2 separate regions of the Homo sapiens genome follow, and region 1 is linked to region 2. The links come from fine-mapping of genetic effects on gene expression. A gene starts in region 2. The other region holds a variant in brackets. All regions are shown on one strand. Distances are between the middles of the regions.

The links. PIP is the estimated chance that this variant, and not a neighbour inherited with it, causes the effect. A credible set is the group of variants that fine-mapping cannot tell apart.
Region 1: its variant is the best candidate, but not a certain one, in a credible set for the expression of PHACTR3 in breast (GTEx, PIP 0.76).

The regions. Positions count from the first base shown.
Region 1 is chr20:59,292,635-59,298,008 of GRCh38, forward strand. No RefSeq gene overlaps it. Among named protein-coding and RNA genes, the nearest start is that of EDN3, 5.3 kb to the right of the region's middle. The variant G/T (reference allele first, on the strand shown) is at 3,223.
Region 2 is chr20:59,601,467-59,606,840 of GRCh38, forward strand. It overlaps PHACTR3 (phosphatase and actin regulator 3), which reads left to right and starts at 3,074. Exons shown (of 13, transcript NM_080672.5): 1 at 3,074-3,666. The coding sequence starts at 3,549. RefSeq lists a silencer at 2,695-2,895.

The sequences.
Region 1 (5,374 bases), 310 kb before region 2:
TCACTCCAGTCAAAATGGTGCCAGTTTCTTCACGCTACACATCTTTCTCTGCCCTTCCCATTACTGTCTCTTTCATCAAGCCCAATGTCATATTAGTTAATTCTTTGTTTTGTCTTAGTTCTTGGAGGCATCTCATGGAGGCACCATCTTGTTCCCAGGGGTAATCTTAGTACTTAGAAAAAGTGTCTGACTCCCAGTAGGTGCTTAATAAGTAGTTGAATGAATAAAGGGACAAACACAGAACCCTTTTACATGACTTTCATAGTGATGTGAGTTGCGACATCTCAGTAACTAAGAGTTTAATTCTAAGGTTTTTTTTTTCTTTTTTTTTTTTTTTAAAGCCAAATGATTCCCATTTCCTCCCCAATCCATCAGCACGTTCCGGCAGGAGATTTTGCTCTCTCGGAGTCCTACGTCTCTGAGAAGGTACCAGGTCAAATCCTGCCCCCCCTGCATTTCTGAATCTGAATTATGACTTCCGGGCTTGATTGTGTTACTCTTTTGTTTAACTGTGTCCTGCTAAAGTGGTTTGAGCTCATTAAAAACACAATTGTGAAATTTCTTTCAGAAGAAAATGCGTCTGTGCCCTAGCTTGAGAAGTTCTGTGAAGTCCATTCCTTATTTTAGGTTTTGAAAGTTCCAGAATCCGGCAGCCAGCTTAGATTTCTGTTCTTCCTTCCCCCACCCGCAGTGGCTTCTCCTCCGTCCCATTGGTTTTTGCTGCCCTCTCACCGTTCATTTCCTTACTTCTCTTTCAAGTTTGAACTGTTCCCAGGTGTGAGGGAGGAGGAAAAGTAGGTGACATACTAGGAATGCAGAACCTTCAATATCTTTTTTTTCTCTAGCGCTGGGGACAGAAGTTTAAATAGTTTCATGTAAGGAAAAAAAGCTAGCTGTTTTTTTTTGTGGGGGGGTGGACCCACAAGCCTCAACAACAATGAATCACCTGCACTCTATAAATTCCTCTATTTTTAACCACTGCTTTTGATGTTTAAGAGTGGCAACTTAGGTTTGGAGCCCAACTTCATGTTCAGCTCAGCCAGCATCTACAAATGGATTTCTCAGGACCACGACAGCACTTTAGGCTGTTGTAGGACTTCATTTCCTGCTTGTGGTAGATTGCAAATAGCCCCAATTCTTCACACCTCTCTTACTACACCCTTTGCCATGGTGTGCCCTCCTGAGTCACAACAGCTTGGCCATGGGACTTGGTTTGGCCATTGGGATGTTCATGGAGCCAACAGAGGCTTGCATGGGGCCCGTGTGTTAAGCTTTCATCTCTGGAGCCCCTTCTCCTGCTATGAGAAGGACATACCTGGCTGGCCTGCTGGAGGAAAAGAGACTTGGGGAGTAGAGGTGAGTAATTCTCATTGTCTCAGTCAAGGTCAACCCGGATCCTCCAGCAGCTATCCCCAGACAAACGACTGAGTCCAGCAGGGGGTCTAGGCAGTCCACAGAGCTGCCTAGCCACTGGATGCTTTGCTGACCATCATTGCAGTTTGAGGAACACTTGTAATGCACATTACGTGGCAATGGATAACTCATACACCATCCTCAAAGGACTTCCAATCTGGTGAGAGGCAAAAGTTTGCACATAACCATAATTACTAAAACTACTATCACTGCTGGGTAACATTTATCCAATGCTTATTTATTTTGCTCCAGGTCCTATATTCAATGCTTCACTGTCATTTAATCTGTGCGACAACGCTTATCCTCAGTTCACAGATGAGGAAATTGAGTCTCAAAGAGGTGCAGTGACTTGCCCAAGGTCACACAGCTAGGCAAGGGGGATGTCAGTATTTTGATCCAGGTCTGTTTGACTTCAAAGCCCATGAGTGAGGCCATTATGCTTTCCTGCAAGTCTAAATGTTTGAGCAGCTACAGGAGGATCTCAACATATTATTTTTTTAAACAGGCAAATCAGGTTGCTAGAAGGGGCAGCATTTGATCTGGGACTTAAAGTGGCTTTGGTCAGGATTTCATGCAATGAGGTGAGAATGAAGGAGTGCTTATGTGAATATTTTTATTCTGCAAACAGATCAAGGTATTTGGCAGCTGCTGGAAAGTTTTCCACATCCAGTGATTGGCTGCATTTGGTGGACACAGGGACTCATCACTATATGAACTTTAAAGGGATACAGCTTGTGAAAAATTCCTCTGATAAAAGTCAAGGCTACTTCAAGGTAATTAAAACACACAGGTGTGTTTGTGGCATGTTGACTTAACTTATTCAAAAGCATCTCTCCCATGTATCTGCTGAGATGCTTGAAATTCCCAACTTTGGCTGAGGCATTGAAGGCTCCAGTTAAAGTACACACATGTTGTTTGAGATAAGTTGAGACTGTGTGTGTGTGTGTGTGTGTGTGTGTGTGTGTGCGTGCATGCGGTCTGGGTCAGGGCTCCTGGGAGGGATGGGAAAGGTATGAGTTAGAGGCATTGCTGAAATAAAACAAATACCAAAATGCAAGAGATTCCAAAAACAAATCGACTTCCTTTACCTTTTTCCCCCAAGGGCTGGGTGCTGTTGAGAGATGGAATCTGTGCCCTTCCATCAGGAAGTGGTCTGTCTATGGGTATGAGGCTCCAGGTTAGCATTGCATTGGATGGTTGTATAATGTGCTGCTTCGGGGTCCAAATGGCCACTCTTTCTCTCTTCCCTGCATGGTTTCTACTCCCACCAGAGATGGTTTTGAACGAGCACTTATGTCTTGCCTGCTAGAACTGTGAAATTTCAGACTTTCTAGAAAAAAACTAAGCATTTATTTCAGTAGCTCTTCTCATTCCCTGACCAATGAACCAACATAGCCATTCTGCTGCTGGTTCTGGAGACAATTACCATGAGCAGCATCCATGTTCTTTACAGCCTACTCCACTCTCACAGTAAGTTGAGACAAAACACATCGGGATGCTTTTGACTGCGAGTGGAAGAAACCTAACTTGAACTGGTGTCAGCAAAGATGGAGATGTCTTGGCTGATGTAGGTGAAAGGTCCAAGGAGCCATGTTGGGTCCAGGGCTTATGACTTAGCCTTGATTCCCTACTTCTACTTTCTACTTTCTACCGATTACTCTGTGTTGGCACCATTCCCGGAGAGACTTTTCACCTCATGATGACAAGTACTGCTGGCACCAGCAAGCTTTCATCTGATTTTCTCAGCGGCTCCCCAGAAAAACAGAAGAGCCTCTTTTCAAAGTCCCAGAACTGAATCTCCTGGGTCCT[G/T]AGCAGCCAGGCTTGGCTCATGGGCCTATCTCTGGACAAATCACTATATTTAAAGTTGTATTAATTTCTTATTGCTGCTGCAACAAATCATCATGAACTTAATGGTTTAAAACAATACCAATTGATTATCTTATAGTTCTGGAGGTCAGCAGTCTAAAAATAGGTTGGAAGGGCTATGTGCCTTCTGGAGGCTGAAGGAAAGAATTCATTCCCTTGCCTTTTCCATTTTCTAGACATTGCCTGTGTTCCTCTGCTCATAGCCTTGTACCAGCCCAACTTCTGTTTCCATTGTCACAGCTTCTCTGACGCTGACCCTCCCCCTCCCTCTTAAAAGAACATTTTTAAAAATTACATTGCCCACCGCCCCCCACCCCCGATAATCCAGGGTCATCTCCCATCTCAATGTCTTTAATCACACCCTTAAAATCCCTTTTGCCATGTTAGTTGACATATTCACAGGTTCTGAGGATTAGGACATGGACATCTTTGGGGATACCATTATTCTTCCTATCTCAAAGATGATGTATGGTCTGATTAGTTAATCCATAGTCACAAGCCTGGCCCTGGAGCGTCCCCTGAAACCACTTGGACAGAGAAGGGGAGGGGTGGTTCCCCAGGGGAAGATGTGGTCCATTACCAGACCTGGAGGGATGGGGATGCTGGCAGGGCAACAACAGCAAATGTCCACAGCAGAAAACACAGGAAAAAACTTCAGGACTCTTTTGAACAAGTTTTGTTGCTTTTGGGATCACCCGATTTCTCTTAGGCTTTGAACACATTTTATTGATAGCACTAAAGTTCAGAATGCATTGTGATCATTTTATTTCACGGAGAATATTATACACAGTGTACCTCATTTGTAAAGCAAGGGATTTGGAGCCTGGCACTTCCTCCAGTGCATCTTAGAATGAACCACGTGCCAGTGAGGGAAGACACAGCTAAGAGTTGGACAACATGGAAAAGCACTTAATTACTTGGTTTTTGAGTAAGTCCAGAGTTCCTGCTGCTGTGGGTGGGTGGGGAGAAGAAATTCCAGCATGATGGAAAACTACATAATGTATTATGTTACTCTCCCTTAAATCCCTTAAATTAAAGGAAAAACAATCTTCAAAGAATCATAAAGCACATAAAGAGACAACTTGAGGGGATGCTTATCTGAGATAAATTGCAACATTCTTAATGGCTGGGTTTTGAATCAAAATGTAAGTGGTAAGGACTCAAAGTATCAGTCGCACATCTGCTGACTTGGAAAAAGTTGAGGAAAAATAAACACAATGACCAAGCCGTGCACTTGGCCGAGCCCCAGCAGTGTCCTGATACATGACTTCTCCTAGGGGCACATTGGATGCTGAGGCAGTGAAGGAGGATCAAGGAATATTGGCAGACGTCTGCGGAGAAGAATGCCTATTCATTCGTGTCCTCTGTAGAGGTCATCATTCCTTTACATGACCTTCCATCAGAGATTATGGAATGGAAACTAGACAGATGGAGAGGCAGTGAGTTGTCAATGATACACAGAAGAAAATGGGAACCATTAAAACCTTGGGTATGAGTTCCAGAGGCAGCGCTGCTTAAGCATTATGAACTCTGTCCCTGGAATCATGTGGAGTCAAATTTGAATCCTGATAGACTGCCACTTAATAGATGCATGGTTGTAGGCTGGTTACTTTGACCTTTTCGAGCCTTAGTTTTTTAATCTGTGAGATGGGGATAATGTTAGCATAAATTTTGTTGAGTTGTCACAAGGGCAAAACAATGATGGAAACCACCAGCTTGCCATTGAGTTACATGAATTGTATATTTCCTTTGCACATTTCTTAGCCTGGAACCCAGAAGGCTTTGTGATCTTGCCAAGTCTCCAAGCCGGCTTTACAATGAATTACTTCATATTGTAATTGAGGTTACCTTTACTTGACTTAAGTGTATTAATTTAGAAAGGAATTTTATGTCAATCACTACCATGCACAGTAAGCCCGATTCCACAGCCTGACAAAGGCTCCAAGCCTATGGCCTGCTATCCCTTTGTACAAGCCTATGGCCTGCTACATTCCTTTTGTATCCCTTTGTTCAAAAATCCCTTTGTACAGCTCTCTCTCTGTTCGAGAGCTGTTAAAGACACATCGAGTCATTGCCCTGGCCATCGTCAGAAGCC
Region 2 (5,374 bases):
TTGCCAGGGATCTTGTTCAGGAGGGACAATTGGTGACTTTCACAAAAACCTGTTGTGGGCCCTCAAGGCTGGAAACCCTCCTCCAAACAGGTGCCTTTCACACACCTTGGGGACCAGATCCTCACAGGGCTCAAGCCAGTCATGGTCTGGAGATGACCGACTTTGAAGTCCAAAGTCTCTCCGGCAGGCAATTTACCCGGAGACCTTATTATCTTCTATTGGTCAGTAGAGGTGGGATTGCTAACTTTTTTTAAATTTAAAACTATTTTTAGTATGGAACATCTCAAAGCCAAAGAATAATATAAGGAAAAGCTCCAGCTCTACCTACCTTTAACAAACCACAGTGCTTTGCTAAAATATATACTTCTAAGAAATAAAACTTGGTTGCATCTCATCTTCTGCTTCCCCACTCCATGTGGGCTCCTGAGCTCAAATGCCAAGTCTTATCCTTTTATATGTTTTTAACCCTCATCCATACACAGTTTGGTGGAGTAGGTGAATGGGTGCTGCTGTGTAGACCATCTGAAGGGACTAGGGATAATTTTTGGTGGTGCACGGACAAGGCAGGAACATTGGCTTAGATAGAAAGTTCCTTCCATTCTTTGTCCTTATGGTAACATTAAGGAGGATGTCTCTATTCGGTGCCTGCCTGGCTGAACTCCTCTCTCACCCTTGGGCCCTTTTTAACCACACAGGAGACAGCTCAGGCCAAGAGTGGACTCAGGTATTGAGTTAGTGCCGTGGTCCCCCCCACCAATGCCAGCCAGCGAGGCTGTGCTCCATCAGTCCTATTGAAGGCTTCCTTTAACATGCATGTCGGCCCGGTGTGGAGGTGCACACTGTACTCCCAAGTACTAGGAAGGCTGAGGTGGGATGATTGTTTGAGCCCAGGAGTTTGAGGCTGTAGTGCACTATGATTGCCCCCGTGAATAGCCACTGCACTCCAGCCTGGAAAACAGAGCAAAACTCTTTCAAAAAAAAAAAAAAAAGAGAGAGAGAGAGAAAAGAAAAAATATGTTTAAGTGCAAAGAGTTGATTTAAAGACAAATCTTAAGGGATGGAAGGATAGGTTTTAAATAGGGAAGGCTAAAAATCATAGGGATGGTTGGCAAATGACAGACAGCTGGAGACCTCTGGTGTGATCTTTCTCCTCCCCCCCACCTATAGCCAGTCTCTGGGCTCTATCCCTTCCTGCCCATCCCCACCATTTCTGCACCTGCCGTGGCTGGGTCAGCTGCAGGCTTCCTTCCAATGGAACTGAACTGTCTCAGGTGTTCACTCACCCAGACTCGGAAGGGGCCCAAGGCATGGTTGGGGGCAAGGATTCAGAAACCTTCCCATGGGGCCAGTACTCAGTGTGTCAGGACAGCCCCTGGGGACTTGGAGTGGGAGGTGTTGAAGACCCACTTGGAGAGACCCTGGGCCAAGAGCATTGGCTGTGGCCCAGCTCTTCCACGTGCTGGCTTGTAACCTGGGCAAGAGTGCTCACCTCTTGAAGTTGCCTTCATCTCAAAAGTGGAGACCACAGTAGCTCTCACCTACCAGGGCAGTTGTAGGAAGGAATGAGGTCCCCATGCAAAATGCTCAGTCCAAGGCTGGCAGGCCACTTCACCATCCAGCCAGCACATTTTTATGTGGATAAAACGTATCTATTCCTAGCAGTTTCCCACCAGTTTCCTCTTTGTTTCCTGATCTTAATTGCCAACTGTAATTAAATGATTATTTGGGCATCTTATTAGTGTGTTGGTGACCATTCTCGGCTTCACCCTCCCCCTTTCCCGGAAGACTCAAGGAGTTGGGGCGTCTCTGTGTTTGTGCACTGCTAGGTCCCTAATGCCTGGTGTGGTGCCTGGCACACACTCGACTCTGCACACAGTCTGAATGAATGAATGAGTCCTTTCTTTAGAGGTGACTGATGCTGCTGAAATAACTGCTGCTAAGAGCCCAAAGCTCTGTGTGGAGTGAACATCCACTTTATTCCCCCTCCCCACCACCACCCCGCTCAGTTCTGTCCTTGGCGCTTAACCGGGATTTCGTCCACACTGCCAGCGCTCACACTGCACTCCCAGGCCCTGCTGTAGGTGCTAATCTGATGGGGGCAGCCTTAGGGAGGGCTCTGTCCCCAGCAGGAGGACCCTTGGTGAGCGACTCTCCCCGCTTGCCCCCACCCCTTCCAGCACCTGCAAAGGGGGCTTAGAGCGGGGCTGCCCCATGGGGTTGAGAAATTGAAATGGGGGTGTCCTCCCCCAGGTGTCTCTGTGGTCCTTGAATCCTGGTGTCTGTTGAAATGCCTCCTCCTCTGGGCACCTTCCAGGACCAGGCCAGGTGACACCACCATTCCACCCCCGTCTCTACCCCTTTCCTGGACTTTCTTCCTTCCCTGCCCTGGCTGGGGAAGCAGCGGCTGCCTGCCTGTGTTCACCCCACACCACCGCTGGGGTTGTGAGAATCGCTCCTTAGCACCCTGGAGGACACCTCTGTGAGTGGCAGCCCTGGGGGGTGTCGCCTCCCTTGCCTGGCCCCTCAGGTTCCTAAGGGCGTCTGAGGAAAAGCCTCATTGGAAAGCGCCCGTGCCCTCCTCCCTCTCCCCCGCCCCCCCGCCCCCCGGCAGGGAGGAGGGTTCGGAGCGAGGGTTCGGAGGGTCCGGGGTGCCCTAGCAGGCCCAGGCCAGGTGGTTGCGGGGAGGAAGCCTCAGGTCGCTCCCCTCCGGTGCCGGGGTGGGCGCGTCGGGACCCACTGGCCTCCCAGTCCCAGGAGAGGAAGGACCAGGGAAACCAGCTGTCTGCAGCTGCTGGGGAAATTAGGGGCTCTCAGGGTTCCCTTTCCTCCGGGAGGGGAGGAAACGGGACTAGGAAGCTTTCCTGTTTCTAGAGCACGGCTTGGTGGGGTGGGCGGCTCCTAACCCGGGGTCCAGCCCCTCCTCCCCCACCCCGGCGCGCGGTCCAGGTATGTGCGACCCCTCCCAGTGGCCACGCGCCTTCTCACGCCCCTCTCCCGTGACGTCATGCTCCTCTCGCGCGGCATGATGGGAGAATCCTAATGTTTTCCAACAGATGCTCCAAGAACAGCTTTCAGATTAAAGCAATTGCAAGAGCAAAGATTCTTCCTTTTCCCTTTTTTCCTGGGGGGGTGGGGGGTGGGGTGGGGGGAGGGAGCGCCCCCAGACATTCCAGGACATCACCCCCTGCCCCAAGCACGCAATAAACACTGACAAGAAAAAGTTTTTATTTCCTGGTTCAACTTTTTTTTTTTTCCCTGGAATATAGACTGAAGAATGGGAATAAACACGAATAAATAACAAAGCGAGGCCGCGCACGCCGGGATGCGCCTGGCTGCAGCCGGCGAGGCTATTGTCTCCCCGCCCTGAAGCCAGCCCCGGCGTCTTTCTCCAGCTCGTTTCCTTTCCCGGCCTTTTTTTTTTTTTTTTTTTTTTAATTTTCTTTTTTAAAAAGACGCCCCCTCCAGCCCCCTCGCCGGTGACCTTGGCCGCCTCGGATGCTCTGATTCCACGCGGCTCGCTCTAACTTGCCCCCGCGCCGGCCGGGCCCATGGCCGCGTCGGAGGACGGGAGCGGCTGCCTCGTGTCGCGGGGCCGCTCGCAGAGTGACCCCAGCGTCCTCACCGACTCCTCGGCCACCTCCTCCGCGGACGCCGGGGAGAACCCAGGTAACGGGCTGGGCGGGGGCGGCGGGCGGGTCGGGGAGGCCCGAGGCAGGTGGCGCTGAGAGCAGGACCCCGCGAGGCTCCGCGCCCCGCCTGCATTCGGGGAGCCGCGGCAGGAACCCGCGCTCGGCCCCGCGGTTCCTATCCCCAGTCTCGCAGGGCTGGGGCGCCTCGGAGCCCTTTGTCCATAAAAGAGCTGATTTCCTGGGTAGAGCCGGGCGCTGCAGCTTCCCCTCCTCTCCGGCTGGTGAGCTCTGCCGTCCCCTCGAAGGAGGCTTCCTTTCCTCGGGTGCTGACCGGCTGGGGGAAGAGAGGCAGACCCGTGGCCGCCTCCGCCCAGCGCCGGTTCTGGGCCATTCCCTCCCTCCCCACTGCCGGGCCCCAGCTCCGGACGTCCCCGCTTGGGCATCTGCTCCTGGAAGGCAGCGCTCCGCAGCTGAGGCCACCGCGCTGAGGGCTTCCACCAGGCGCCTGACTCCAGCGGGGCCTGGCGCACCTGGGCGCGCTAGCCCCCGGACAGGTGTGCTGGGCAGAGCCGCCGGCAGGGAGACGAAGGGCGTGCGCCAGGACAGAGCCCGGTTTCGTGACAGCGTGTGGACTCCGTCCACTCTTCCACCCCCATGGCAGCGTTGATTGTTTAGGTGATAAACCGGTCACAAAGGCGTCTATAGGGCTTGATTGATTACTTTCCAGAGAGGAAGAAAGGCCTAATAAAGCGGGGGGGGAGGTGGGGGGGGGGGTGGGCTGTGTGCGCCTGTCACCATGGAGACGCAGGAAGCAAAGTGATCATTAAAACCTCTCTCCACCAGAAGGCAATTTTCACTTCACAGGGAGAAGTCTGGGCTTCTGAAATGTAGGGTTCAAAAAAAGAATCAAAGCTGGTGTTTTGGTATCAAGCCACAGGACTCAGTTTTGTATCTTAGAGAAGCACAATTCCTTCGTAGATTCTGTTTTGATAACAAGTTGCTTCGCCTGCCTTTGAAGACTTATTCTCTCTAAATGCAACGACCCCAGATGGGGACTTGATGATGTTAAATGGTGGGCATCAGAATCCCTGGGGCCCGGGTGAAGGCTGGCTTTGTGGGGAGGGATTCCTGCACTGGAACACACCAGAGCTTCCCGATAAACTGCCTAGAGGACTCATTACAGGCAGCTGTGTGGGCACTGGATCCCTCCCCCCCCCATTTGAAAATTTAAACAATAAACCCGGGCAAGTATTGGAAGATTTCTTTGTTAAGACTATTGACACTGTGTCACTTGGTCAAACTAAGGTACCGGCCTGAATAAATCTCTGACTTTTCTTTATCTGGGAGGGCAGGTTAATTTCCTTAGAGTTTCAAGCAGAGGCTGCCATGGCCGACCCTTAAGGTTTTAATTAATCCTTTTACTAGGAATGGGGGATTCAGCCTTCAGCACTCCATGATGGATTGCCTTTCTCTGGGTTGGAGAGGCGCATCCACAACTGTTCCAATCATGGAAGTTGAGTGGCTTCTCATGAGAATCCTTCTAAGCTCCCTTTGTCTCCCTGGCAGTAAGAGGAAGCAAACTTGAAATGGAAATTATGGAGGACTTGGCTTTTTGGCTGTATGTGAGTTTATGCCTCTGTGGGTGGGAGCGGAGGGTTGGGCAGGTGGTGCCGGTCCATGAGAGAAGGAGGAGGAAGGGCTGGGATGCCTGTGATTAAGTTATGCGTGGGAGGGCACAGGCTTGA